Homo sapiens: one gene and its partners. The gene in region 3 interacts genetically with the main gene of each other region. Each region holds a gene or a part of one and is shown on either strand. Other genes may lie near its edges. The genes, in order: TOP2A, ATM and MAP3K4.

Evidence for each region.
Region 1: changes in MAP3K4 (region 3) and TOP2A are lethal when combined (synthetic lethality), as found in Homo sapiens cells (one large-scale study listed by BioGRID).
Region 2: changes in MAP3K4 (region 3) and ATM together harm fitness more than expected from each alone (negative genetic interaction), as found in Homo sapiens cells (one large-scale study listed by BioGRID).

What each region holds. Positions count from the first base shown.
Region 1 is NC_000017.11:40,404,391-40,408,044, forward strand, and holds part of TOP2A (DNA topoisomerase 2-alpha), read right to left. Parts: coding exon 3,577-3,654; intron 3,285-3,576; coding exon 3,159-3,284; intron 2,553-3,158; coding exon 2,442-2,552; intron 2,300-2,441; coding exon 2,194-2,299; intron 2,104-2,193; coding exon 1,994-2,103; intron 494-1,993; coding exon 401-493; intron 102-400; coding exon 1-101. UniProt on the Homo sapiens protein: Key decatenating enzyme that alters DNA topology by binding to two double-stranded DNA molecules, generating a double-stranded break in one of the strands, passing the intact strand through the broken strand, and religating the broken strand.
Region 2 is NC_000011.10:108,327,567-108,331,220, forward strand, and holds part of ATM (serine-protein kinase ATM), read left to right. Parts: intron 1-78; coding exon 79-192; intron 193-1,454; coding exon 1,455-1,672; intron 1,673-2,647; coding exon 2,648-2,855; intron 2,856-3,632; exon of another isoform or gene 3,633-3,654.
Region 3 is NC_000006.12:160,994,760-160,998,413, reverse strand, and holds part of MAP3K4 (mitogen-activated protein kinase kinase kinase 4), read right to left. Parts: intron 1-3,654. UniProt on the Homo sapiens protein: Component of a protein kinase signal transduction cascade. Activates the CSBP2, P38 and JNK MAPK pathways, but not the ERK pathway. Specifically phosphorylates and activates MAP2K4 and MAP2K6.

The DNA of each region.
Region 1 (3,654 bases), on a different chromosome or scaffold from region 3:
GGGATAGATCTCTCGTTATCAGAATTTGAGAACAAGATAAGTTCCTTGTTGATGAAGTCATTATATGTCAGATATGTGGTAGTTTGTCCATACAAGTAATCCTGAAGGACCAAATAGTATTACATGAGTCTACCGGTCTAAACAATGCTCAACACAAAAATCAAACAGAAACCTTTCAGAACTAAGAATTATTTCTGTAATTCTTAAGTCTTTAAAAAATATTGAATAATACAGAAATATTTTATATGTTTTAAAGATAAAGCAAATTTAACTGCTGCACAACTCTATCATATCAAATTTTTTACTAAAATAACTATTCAGTAAGTTTAATTTGCTATAGTATCAATACCAAAAGGTCAGTCTAACAATCCATTTTGTGGCATATATTTAAAACTTTTACCTCAGGAAGCCCAAGTAACTTTCGTTGTCTTCTATCCTCCATGAAATTAGTTAACCATTCCTTTCGATCATCTATCTGTTTTTTGCTAAAGGCCTATAAATTAAAGGATGAAAAGATGTCACTGGTACTAATAGGCTAATAGGTTCCAAAATATCCTTCTACAAAGAACGAACAACAGAAAAACAAAAATACTGTTTTCCTTTTTTTTTTTTTTTGAGACGGGAGTTACTGTTCTCTTGCCCAGCCTGGAGTGCAATGGTGTCATCTTGGCTCACTGCAACCTCTGCGTCCTAGGTTCAAGCGATTCTCCTGCCTCAGCCTCCTGAGCCCCTGGGATTAAAGGCGCCCGCCACCACGCCCAGCTAATTTTTGTATTTTTTTTTTTTTGAAATGGAGTTTCACTCTTGTGGAATGTGATGGCACGATTTCGGCTCCCACAACCTCCACTTCCCAAGTTCAAGTGATTCTCCTGCCTCAGCCTCCCGTGTAGCTGGGATTACAGGCACGTGCCACCACACCCAGCTAATATTTTGTATTTTTAGTAGAGATGGGGTTTCACCATGTTGGTCAGGCTGGTCTTGAACTCCCGAGCTCAGGTGATCCACCCGCCTCGGCCTCCCAAAGTGCTATGATTACTGGTGTGAGCCACTGCGCCCGACCTTTTTTGTTTTTTTTTTTTTTTGAGACAGAGTCTCGCTCTGTCGCCCAGGCTGGAGTGCAGTGGCACCATCTCAGCTCACTGCAAGCTCCGCCTCCTGGGTTCACGCCATTCTCCTGCCTCAGCCTCCGGAGTAGCTGGGATTACAGGCGCGTGTCACCAAGCCCGGCTAATTTTTTATTTTTTATTTTTTTTTATTTTTAGTAGAGACGGGGTTTCACCGTGTTAGCCAGGATGGTCTCCATCTCATGACGTTGTGATCTGCCCGACTTAGCCTTCCAAAGTACTGGCATTACAGGCGTGAGCCACCACGCCTGGCCTTTTTCCTTTTTTTTTGAGATGGAGTCTCACTCTGTTGCCCAGGCTGGAGAGCAGTGGCCTGATCTCGGCTCACTGCAACCTCTGCCTCTCGGGTTCAAGCGATTCTCCTGCCTCAGCTTCCCAAGTAGCTGGGACTATAGCTGCGTGCCACCACGGCCGGCTAATTTTTTGTATTTTTAGCAGAGATGGGGTTTCACCTTGTTAGCCAGGATGGTCTTGATCTCCTGACCTTGTGATCTGCTCGCCTCTGCCTCCCAAAGTGCTGGGATTACAGGCGTGAGCCACTACGCTCGGCCAATTTTCGTATTTTTAGTAGAGAGGGGGTTTCACCATGTTGGACAGGTTGGTCTCCAACTCTTGATCTCAGGTGATCCACCTGCCTTGGCCTCCCAAAGTCCTAGAATTATAGGCATGAGCCACCAAGCCCAGCCAAAAATCAAAATTTTCTAAAATATCTGATTCCTTCTCTGGGATATGCTTACTGGAAACATTCTATTCTATAAAACATTCTTTTTTTTTTGATACGGAGTCTTATACAAAAATGTAAATGTTTCAACTGGCTAAAGTAGTGATTTCTAAAATTAGAATGTATATAAAATACAACTCAAACCTACCAGGCTGATAGCAGCATCATCTTCAGGACCAGAATATTTGAACTGGATACGATGTCTTTTCATATCTGCAAAGTATTCTTTAGCTTCCTTTGATGTGCTGGTGCCCAAACCTATAAAACCAAAAATACCAAGTTCCTTCATATAGTCTTGTACAGGGTGTATAATAAAATGAGAAGTTCTATATGGGTTTCATTACAAACCTTTGTAATATTTGACTTTCCATTTTTTATGATTTGGAGTAGAACTCTTCCACTCTTCAAATTCAGGAAGGCTGTAAAATGCCATTTCTTGCTTGTTTTTAGATACCTGTGATAAAAAACAATGACTGTGGCTTTGTACACTGTGGGGTCCCCTGTATACCACTACATGTGACGGGGCTTATATGTATATCCAGGTTTGAGGAGTAGGGTCTTAAAATATCCATGATGGTACTTAGAAATTAGCGTACCTTTACAATGGGAGTGATAAATTCCTCCAGAAAACGATGTCGCAGAAGAGAGGGCCAGTTGTGATGGATAAAATTAATCAGCAAGCCTTTGATGTGGGAACCATCTTGGTCCTAGAAAGATTTGAAAGCCAAAGTTCAAAAGAACTGTTAGGCTGGGCGTGGTAGCTAACATCTGTAATCCCAGAACTTTGGGAGGCCGAGGCAGGCGGATCGCCTGAGGTCAGGCGTTCGAGACCAGCCTGGCCAACATGGTGAAACCCTGTCTCCACTAAAAATACAAAAATTAGTTGGGTGTGGTGGCATCCGCCTGCAATCCCAGCTACTCGGGAGGCTGAGGCAGGAGAATCGCTTGAACCCATGAGGCGGAGGTTGCAGTGAGCCAAGATTGCACCATTGCACTCCAGCCTGGGCGACAAGGGCGAAACTCCATCTCAAACAAACAAAGAATTGTTTAGAAATAAAAAAATATTATGACTGACCTACTGGCAATTTGTCAAATTTTCTATGGGAATCAAAAAAGGTCTGTTCAAATCCAGACTCACTTAACCTGTATTTGCAACATACATATGATATAAGCATATCTGATTAGATGTTGATTAGAGATGATGAATAAAGCTCCTATTTAACTAATTTATTTTCATGGCAAAAAACAATGAAATTAAATTAAGACATGCTTAATTTAGTTGAACAATCTAAAAATTTAATAACAAATCTGACCTGATCTGTCATAATCATTATCTTCCCATAACGAAGCGTCTTCAATGAATCTTCATCTTCATAGTTTTTCTTGTACTGAAGACCCACAATCTTGATGATATTGTTAATCTCAGCATTTTCCATGATCTGAAATGGACATATACCAAAAAAAGCATCGTTTATAAATTTGAAAAGAACAAAGAAATTTAACAGTATATGTTGCTTGGATTTTCTTGAGCTCCAGTATTTTGAGCTATTAGCTTATAATTTACTACATCAGAAAGGTCTGTTAAAATAGGCTACAATGTACCTAATTTCTCAAAATAAGCACAAATTGTCTAAAATATATTTTAAAATGCCTAATGAGGGAATTAAATATAAGCATAAAGTCTTGTATTATAAATTAGATTTAGATTCTGAAGATCGTCTTATATTCTACCTGCTTATGAGAAGCTTCTCGAACATTGAGTATTTTTCCTCTAAGAGGGAAAACCCCATATTTGTCTCTCCCAACCAC
Region 2 (3,654 bases), on a different chromosome or scaffold from region 3:
TTTTCCCCGTACATGAAGGGCAGTTGGGTACAGTCATGGTAATGCATTATATTTTAAGATTTTGCCTTTCTTATACAGAACAATCCCAGCCTAAAACTTACATACACAGAATGTCTGAGGGTTTGTGGCAACTGGTTAGCAGAAACGTGCTTAGAAAATCCTGCGGTCATCATGCAGACCTATCTAGAAAAGGTAAGATTTTTGGAGCAACCCTTAAGATAGTTACTTAGCATGAATATGCTTCATCTTTTCATCAAGATCAATATATTTCCAAAGCAAATAAAAGTATGGTTTTATTTTTCTATATATTATTACTGTTGTAGCTCTGTATAGTCTCTAGGGTGGAGTGAAACATTGTTACAAAACAAAGCAGCCAATTTTGAAAGTAAGCCCAAGTATAGTATCTCTTCTTCCTCCTTCCTACCTCCACTACCAGCTACCCTTTCAGCAGGTTGCTTCTGATCATTTCTTCATTTATGCATCTACAAAAATAACTGATTAAGAATAGGCAAGTCAGCCCTTGCTCTTCATTAGCCCAGCCACCCACAAGTAAAGGCTTCAATATACTAGCCCCTTTGACTTTCCTGTTTCTCCCTCTTATTCCTTTAGATTCACTAATTTTGGAAATAGTTACCTCACTAAATAAGTGTAACATGAAACACATGATGCGATTGTCTTTCTTTTCTTTTCTTTTCTTTGAGATGAAGTCTCTCTCTGTCGCCCAAGCTGGAGTGCAGTGGCGCAATCTCGGCTCACTGCAACCTCTGCCTCCTGGGTTCAAGCGATTCTCCTGCCTCAGCTTCCCAAGTAGCTGGGACTACAGGAGTGTGCCACCACACCCGGCTAATATTTTTTATTTTTAGTAGAGACGGTTTCGCCACATTGGCCAGTCTGGTCTCGAACTCCTGACCTCAAGTGATCCACCTGCCTCGGCCTCCCAAAGTGCTGGCATTACAGGCTTGAGCCACCACACCCAGCCTGATTGTCTTTAAATTTTATAAAGTTCTCTGTTTTTGCAGAGTTCTTTACAAGTATTAGCTGTCTGGGTTATTTCTACACTGTCAAAGTTGTTTTGAAAAGTCAAGAAAATACCATAGTTCAGGGCTGTCCAATCTTTTGGCTTCCCTGGGCCACATTGCAAGAAGAATTGCCTTGGGCCACACATAAAATATACTAACATTAATGATAGCTAATGAGCTTAAAAAAAATCACAAAAGAAATCTCATAATGTTTTAAGAAAATGTACGAATTTGTGTTGGGCCACATTCAAAGCCGTCCTGGGCCACATGCGGCCCATGGGCCGTGGGTTGGACAAGTTTGCAATAGTTCATATAATTTAGCTAGCTTTTATATGTATATAAGTTAAATTTTAGTGTATTACCTTAATTTGAGTGATTCTTTAGATGTATTTAGTATTTGTAAATATAATTTAAATTGGTTGTGTTTTCTTGAAGGCAGTAGAAGTTGCTGGAAATTATGATGGAGAAAGTAGTGATGAGCTAAGAAATGGAAAAATGAAGGCATTTCTCTCATTAGCCCGGTTTTCAGATACTCAATACCAAAGAATTGAAAACTACATGAAATCATCGGAATTTGAAAACAAGCAAGCTCTCCTGAAAAGAGCCAAAGAGGAAGTAGGTCTCCTTAGGGAACATAAAATTCAGACAAACAGGTAACTAGGTTTCTACAAGTGACAATTTTATGTTCACCAGTTAACTGAGTGAGTGTTTTTGCATAGAAAGAGTGACTTGGTCTTTTTATCTGATATAGTTTTGAGCTCTAAAGGTCGGCTTAACTATATATAGATTATCTTGGTCTTTTGGGTTCTTTTCGGTTTTTGTTTTTTGTTTTTTTTTTTGAGACAAGGTCTCACTCTGTCACCCAGGCTGGAGTACAGTGGCGTGATCACTGTACTCCAGCTCACTGCAACCTCGACCTCCTGGACTCAATTGATTCTCCCCCTGAGCCCCCGAAATAGCTGGGGCTACAGGTGCACGCCATACCTGGCTAATTTTTGTATTTTTTGTAGAGATGGGGTTTTGCCATGTTGCCCAGGTTGGTCTCAAACTCATGGGCTCAAACGATCTGCCCACCTTGGCCGCCCAAAGTGCTGGGATTACAGGTGTGAGGCACTGTGCCCTGTCTGTCTTGGTCCTACTGTAGTTAATCACAAATTAGTATGTAAGATATTGACGTGTTCTTTTGTGAATAATTCATGCTCTGCTTCTAAGTTCATTGTGGAGAATATAGATATTAGCTTTCTGTTTTGCTTTTTTGGTTTGTTTGTTGGTATCATAGTGGAAAAGGAGATAGATATTGAAATTAATTACAAAAGTTACCTATTTTGATGTAATTAAATCCCTTTATTTAAGCCTGTCTTGAATCTGTATATTTTAGTGTAAGCAGAGGTGTAAGTTAGCTAAATAGCTTGGGGAGAGTCCCCTTTGTCCTTTGATGCTTAGGAAGGTGTGTGAATTGCACAGTTAAGACAAAAGTAAGTTTATTCCCTTTATAATCCTTAGAAGTTTGCTTTTTTCCCTGGGATAAAAACCCAACTTTTTTCATTAAATGTTGTATATCATGTGTGATTTTGTAGTTCTGTTAAAGTTCATGGCTTTTGTGTTTTACCTTAATTATTCTATGCAAGATACACAGTAAAGGTTCAGCGAGAGCTGGAGTTGGATGAATTAGCCCTGCGTGCACTGAAAGAGGATCGTAAACGCTTCTTATGTAAAGCAGTTGAAAATTATATCAACTGCTTATTAAGTGGAGAAGAACATGATATGTGGGTATTCCGACTTTGTTCCCTCTGGCTTGAAAATTCTGGAGTTTCTGAAGTCAATGGCATGATGAAGGCAAGTGTTACTCAGCCCAATATTCTACCCTGTGCTTGAAAAACTTAGACATAAGCCCCTTGATGTCAGGAATCGTGTATACCTCTTTGTATTCCTAGCACTTGGTCCAGTGCTCTACACATAAGTAGCATTTTGTAGTTTTCTAAACTTTGATCCATATTTAGGATTATTTACAAGTTCTAGTCTTGTTTCTACAAAAGTTCCTTTGTATTATATAAGCTGACAAGCTGTAAATGATGCAAGTTTGTGTGGAGGTGATAGAATTTAGCTTGGTCCTATGTCTTTGCAGTTACCATAGGAGAGGGTCTAGAATGGGGCATTAGATTGGAGGATTTAGAAAGCAGTTAAAGATGATGTGATCACAGGTGGGTTTTCCCCCTGCTGCAGAAATATGGGATTTTTACAATAAATTACTTTTGTAAGTAGAGAAAATATATTTTTCAGAAAATGTCAAGACAGCAGTATTGTATAAGTTTTTCTTTGAAAACCTTAGATTATAGTGATGACACCTAATATTAAATTTAAGTTGACAAGCTATATATTGTTAGTCAATTTGAAGGTTAGAGATAAAATGTTTCTCCTGCAGGAAAATAATAAGACTCATAATAGATACAGTCAATCTCTGCTGTAGTATACACTAAATATTACTTTTGGCCTATGGGGAAAAGCAATTACTTCATTTTATTGTACACTGACTTCTCAGGAATCAAGATCACAGTCACACTCAGATCACATTTGTCTTCCTTAGATTTTTTGGAATATAAACAGTACCAAGTATTCTAGTTCTGAATCCAGTTTA
Region 3 (3,654 bases):
TCTGATTAGCTTTTTATTTTAAAATAAAATGTGTAACACGTTCATCATAAAAAGTTTTAGGAAAAATTAGTATGTATTTTTTATATCTTTTTTCTATGCACATACTTTTTAAAATGCGATCACACTGAGTATTAGGGTTTTAAGAAGTTTAACTCAAATTAATAGTTTAAGCACAAATAGAGATTAGCTCACATCAAATCAGGAGAAAAATAGGGACAAATCTAGCACAAAAGGGCAACTGGCTGACAGTGTGGTGGTGCGCACCTGTAGTACCACCTACTTGGGAGGCCAAGGCAAAAGAATTCTTTGAGACCAGAAGTTTGAATCCAGCCTGGGTAACATACAGAGACTGCCATCTCTTTATTTATTTTTATTTATTTATTTATTTTAAAGGCAACTGGCCATAGACCTCTTTCAGCCTCTCTGCTTTTCTCTGGGGATTAACATCACTCTCTGAGACCAGGTCCTCTGTAGGAGCTTCAGGAAGCTAGCTCTAGGCTCATGAATTCTCAGCCTATACTTCAGTAAAATGCGCGTTTCTCTCTCCCAGCTCCAATTTGAAAAATCCCAGGAAAGAATCCTAATTGGCCTGGACTGGGTCAAGTGTCATGCCTATGGCCTGGCATCTGTAAGAAGAGGGCAGCTCCAATATGTACCATGTAGTTTGAGTCAAGAGAGGAATTCCCCCAAATAAGGTAGAAGGAAGACAGTGAAGTAGGGCAGACACAGCCGGTGGACAAATATGTGTATGAGATGAAAAACTACCTCAAATTTTGGCTCCCATCTTCTGCAAATTCTGTTTCATAGTCTGTTTGTTCTTGCTGAACACAGCGGTGAGTATGTATACATCAGAAATACTTGAGAATCTTCTTAAGAAGAGCTACTCAGGTACCACCCCAAAAGGAGTTGTATCATGAGCATCTTCACATGTCACTAAACACTATTTAAAAACAGTTTTTAATAACTGGATAGAATTCTGATGTGGTTCTGATTTTTTAAAATTTAATTTTATGACTTAAATCCAGAAAAGCCAGATACCATCATGATCCTTTTTGAACACAATATTCAAAAAGAATTTTATGAAAGCACCAACCACTGACATCTTTGCCACATTGTTCTGAGAAACTATGCTAAAGGATTCTTGGCGAGGGGTGGTGGGACAGAGATTATGGGGAGAATACTGGGTGGGGGATGGAGACAATAAGGTGATCCTCTGAGACTCACCATTAGTAAAAATGTACCGTACCACTGAGGTTTAAAAAAAGAAATCTTAAAGTGAGAAGGATAAAATATACTCCCAAATTAAAGCAGGAAAAGCAAGGTTTGTTATAAAGACTGAAGATTAAAACAAACATACTATAACCCAAACAATTTAGGAAAGTTTGTGACACAAGGGAAAAAAGCAGCCTGTGTGATGCCTAGAAAATAAAAACCTAAGAGTAAGTCTGGATCACACTGCCTCTCATTCAGAAGCAGGGGTGCACCTGCTAGGGATGCAAGCCCACCTCACTGGTCTGCTAACATGAGTCACCGGGATCATTCAACTCATTTCCCTTGCTAATATCATGCTTACTAATCAATCTCTTAATTATACTTTGGCTTTCTACAAGCAAGAGAATACACTGACTAACCAGGTGTACAGACAAAGCTGAGTATCTGTGCCTGAGAAGCCAAGCACAGTGAGTGTCTGGGCCTTGATTATCGTGCCAAGGGAGTGCCAGCTTATGAAGACCTACGGAGTCTTCAGCTAATCTCCTTCTCTCACGTTTTCCATTTTCTCTTTAAAGAAACCACTACCAGTAGCCTACTGATAGGCAACGTTAAAGAGTCTTCAAACAGCATACATACTACCTGGTCAAATGACAAGGCTGAGACAATAGAATGCTATGAGTAAAATCATAGTCATGAGGAATGAGGAATTATTAAATAACAGGAAGTTATTACAACAAATGTATCCAGTGAGCAGGCAAGACCTTTATATCCCCGTATTTCAGCAGAGCTCAGAACAAGATTTGCAGGACACCATGAGAGCATACATGAAGGAAACAGAGTGGCCTCTAACAATGACAGAAAATTAAAGGGAACTACAAAGTCCTCCTAAGTGACAAGTCCCCAGTTGAAAACATGAAGTTTCTGCCATCACTGCTGTTTGGTGACTCCTCTCTGCCTAACGCCACCCCCGCCAATGGCATCTACTGTTACAGTGGTGTAAAGGCATGACCATCACTGATGCTACACCAACAGTCTGGAGCACCACAGGAGGCTGACTTTGCCAGGGAGAACAGTTGACATACAAGGTCAAGACTGAAACACACAGGCTCAAGGTGGACATTCAAGCCGAGAGGCAGAGCAAATTGCCTAGGAGTGACGACATTCAACTAGTTTTTTAGTAGGAAATCCAGTTTTTCAAATGAATTTACAATAAATATATAAAGTAAATAATTCATTTTTTAAAAAAAGTTAATTGTTAAATTTATGCAGCATGTACTCATAAGGACAATGAGAACAATGAGGCTATTTTTAATATAAATATTTTAAATGAAAGGTTATAGTAAACAAGAGCATTATATCAGCCTTAATATCCAATTTATTCTGTGTTTTAGGTGTACAGATCCAATAAGTCACAAAGGTAAATTGTTCCAAATTAGTTTTAATAGCTCTCCTAGTCACCTCAGGATCCTCCTAAAACTGCCCCAGAAGCTTGAAAAAGAAATGATAAGCAATGTTTATTTCAAAATTTAATCACTAACAATAACAACAGCTATCCTTATCATGAATTCTTTATCAAAAATAAGGACAAAAGTATCCACAACTGACAGCAAGCAATAAAACTGGAATAGAGTACTATGACCTCTCTGCCTGTTTTGTGTTGCTGGGTCACTGCATAACACTCTTGGGTCAGGAGGAAAGCACACACTAGGCAGATGTGCTGGGCTGGCTGCACCTGCCACGATGGCACACTTGCTGCACAGCTTTGGAGGCCAACATGTACAGGCCTGAATTCTACAAAAGGCCTGTGCATTAACACAACCTTCCTAATCAATGACACACAGACATAAAGTATGTGACAAAGATGGCAAACAGAGTTTTATTCTAGTCTGTGGCAAAACCAGTTAACCTGGTAGCATAAATTATCACATTATTGGTTTCCAATGTATTAAAAGGTGGCATTTCACACATTTTCAACAAACATAAGAAAAAATGCTCAACATCACTAATTATCAGGGAAATGCAAATTAAAACCACAATGAGATACCACCTTACTCCTGCAAGAATGGCCATAATTTAAAAATAATAATTAAAAAAATAGACAATGGCATGGATGTGGTGAGAAGGGAACTCTTATACACTGCTGGTGGGAATGTAAACTAGTACAACTACTGTGGAAAACAATATGGAGATTCCTTAAAAAACTGGCCAGGCGCAGTGGCTCACGCCTGTAATCCCAACACTTTGGGAGGCCAAGATGGGCGGATCACGAGGTCAGGAGTTCAAGACAAGCCTGACCAACTTGGTGAAACCTTGTCTCTACTAAAAATACAAAAATGAGCTGGACCTGGTGGCAGGCACCTATAATCCCAGCTACCCGGGAGGCTGAGGCAGGAGAATTGCTCGAACTCGGGAGGCAGAGGTTGCAGCGAGCTGAGATCACGC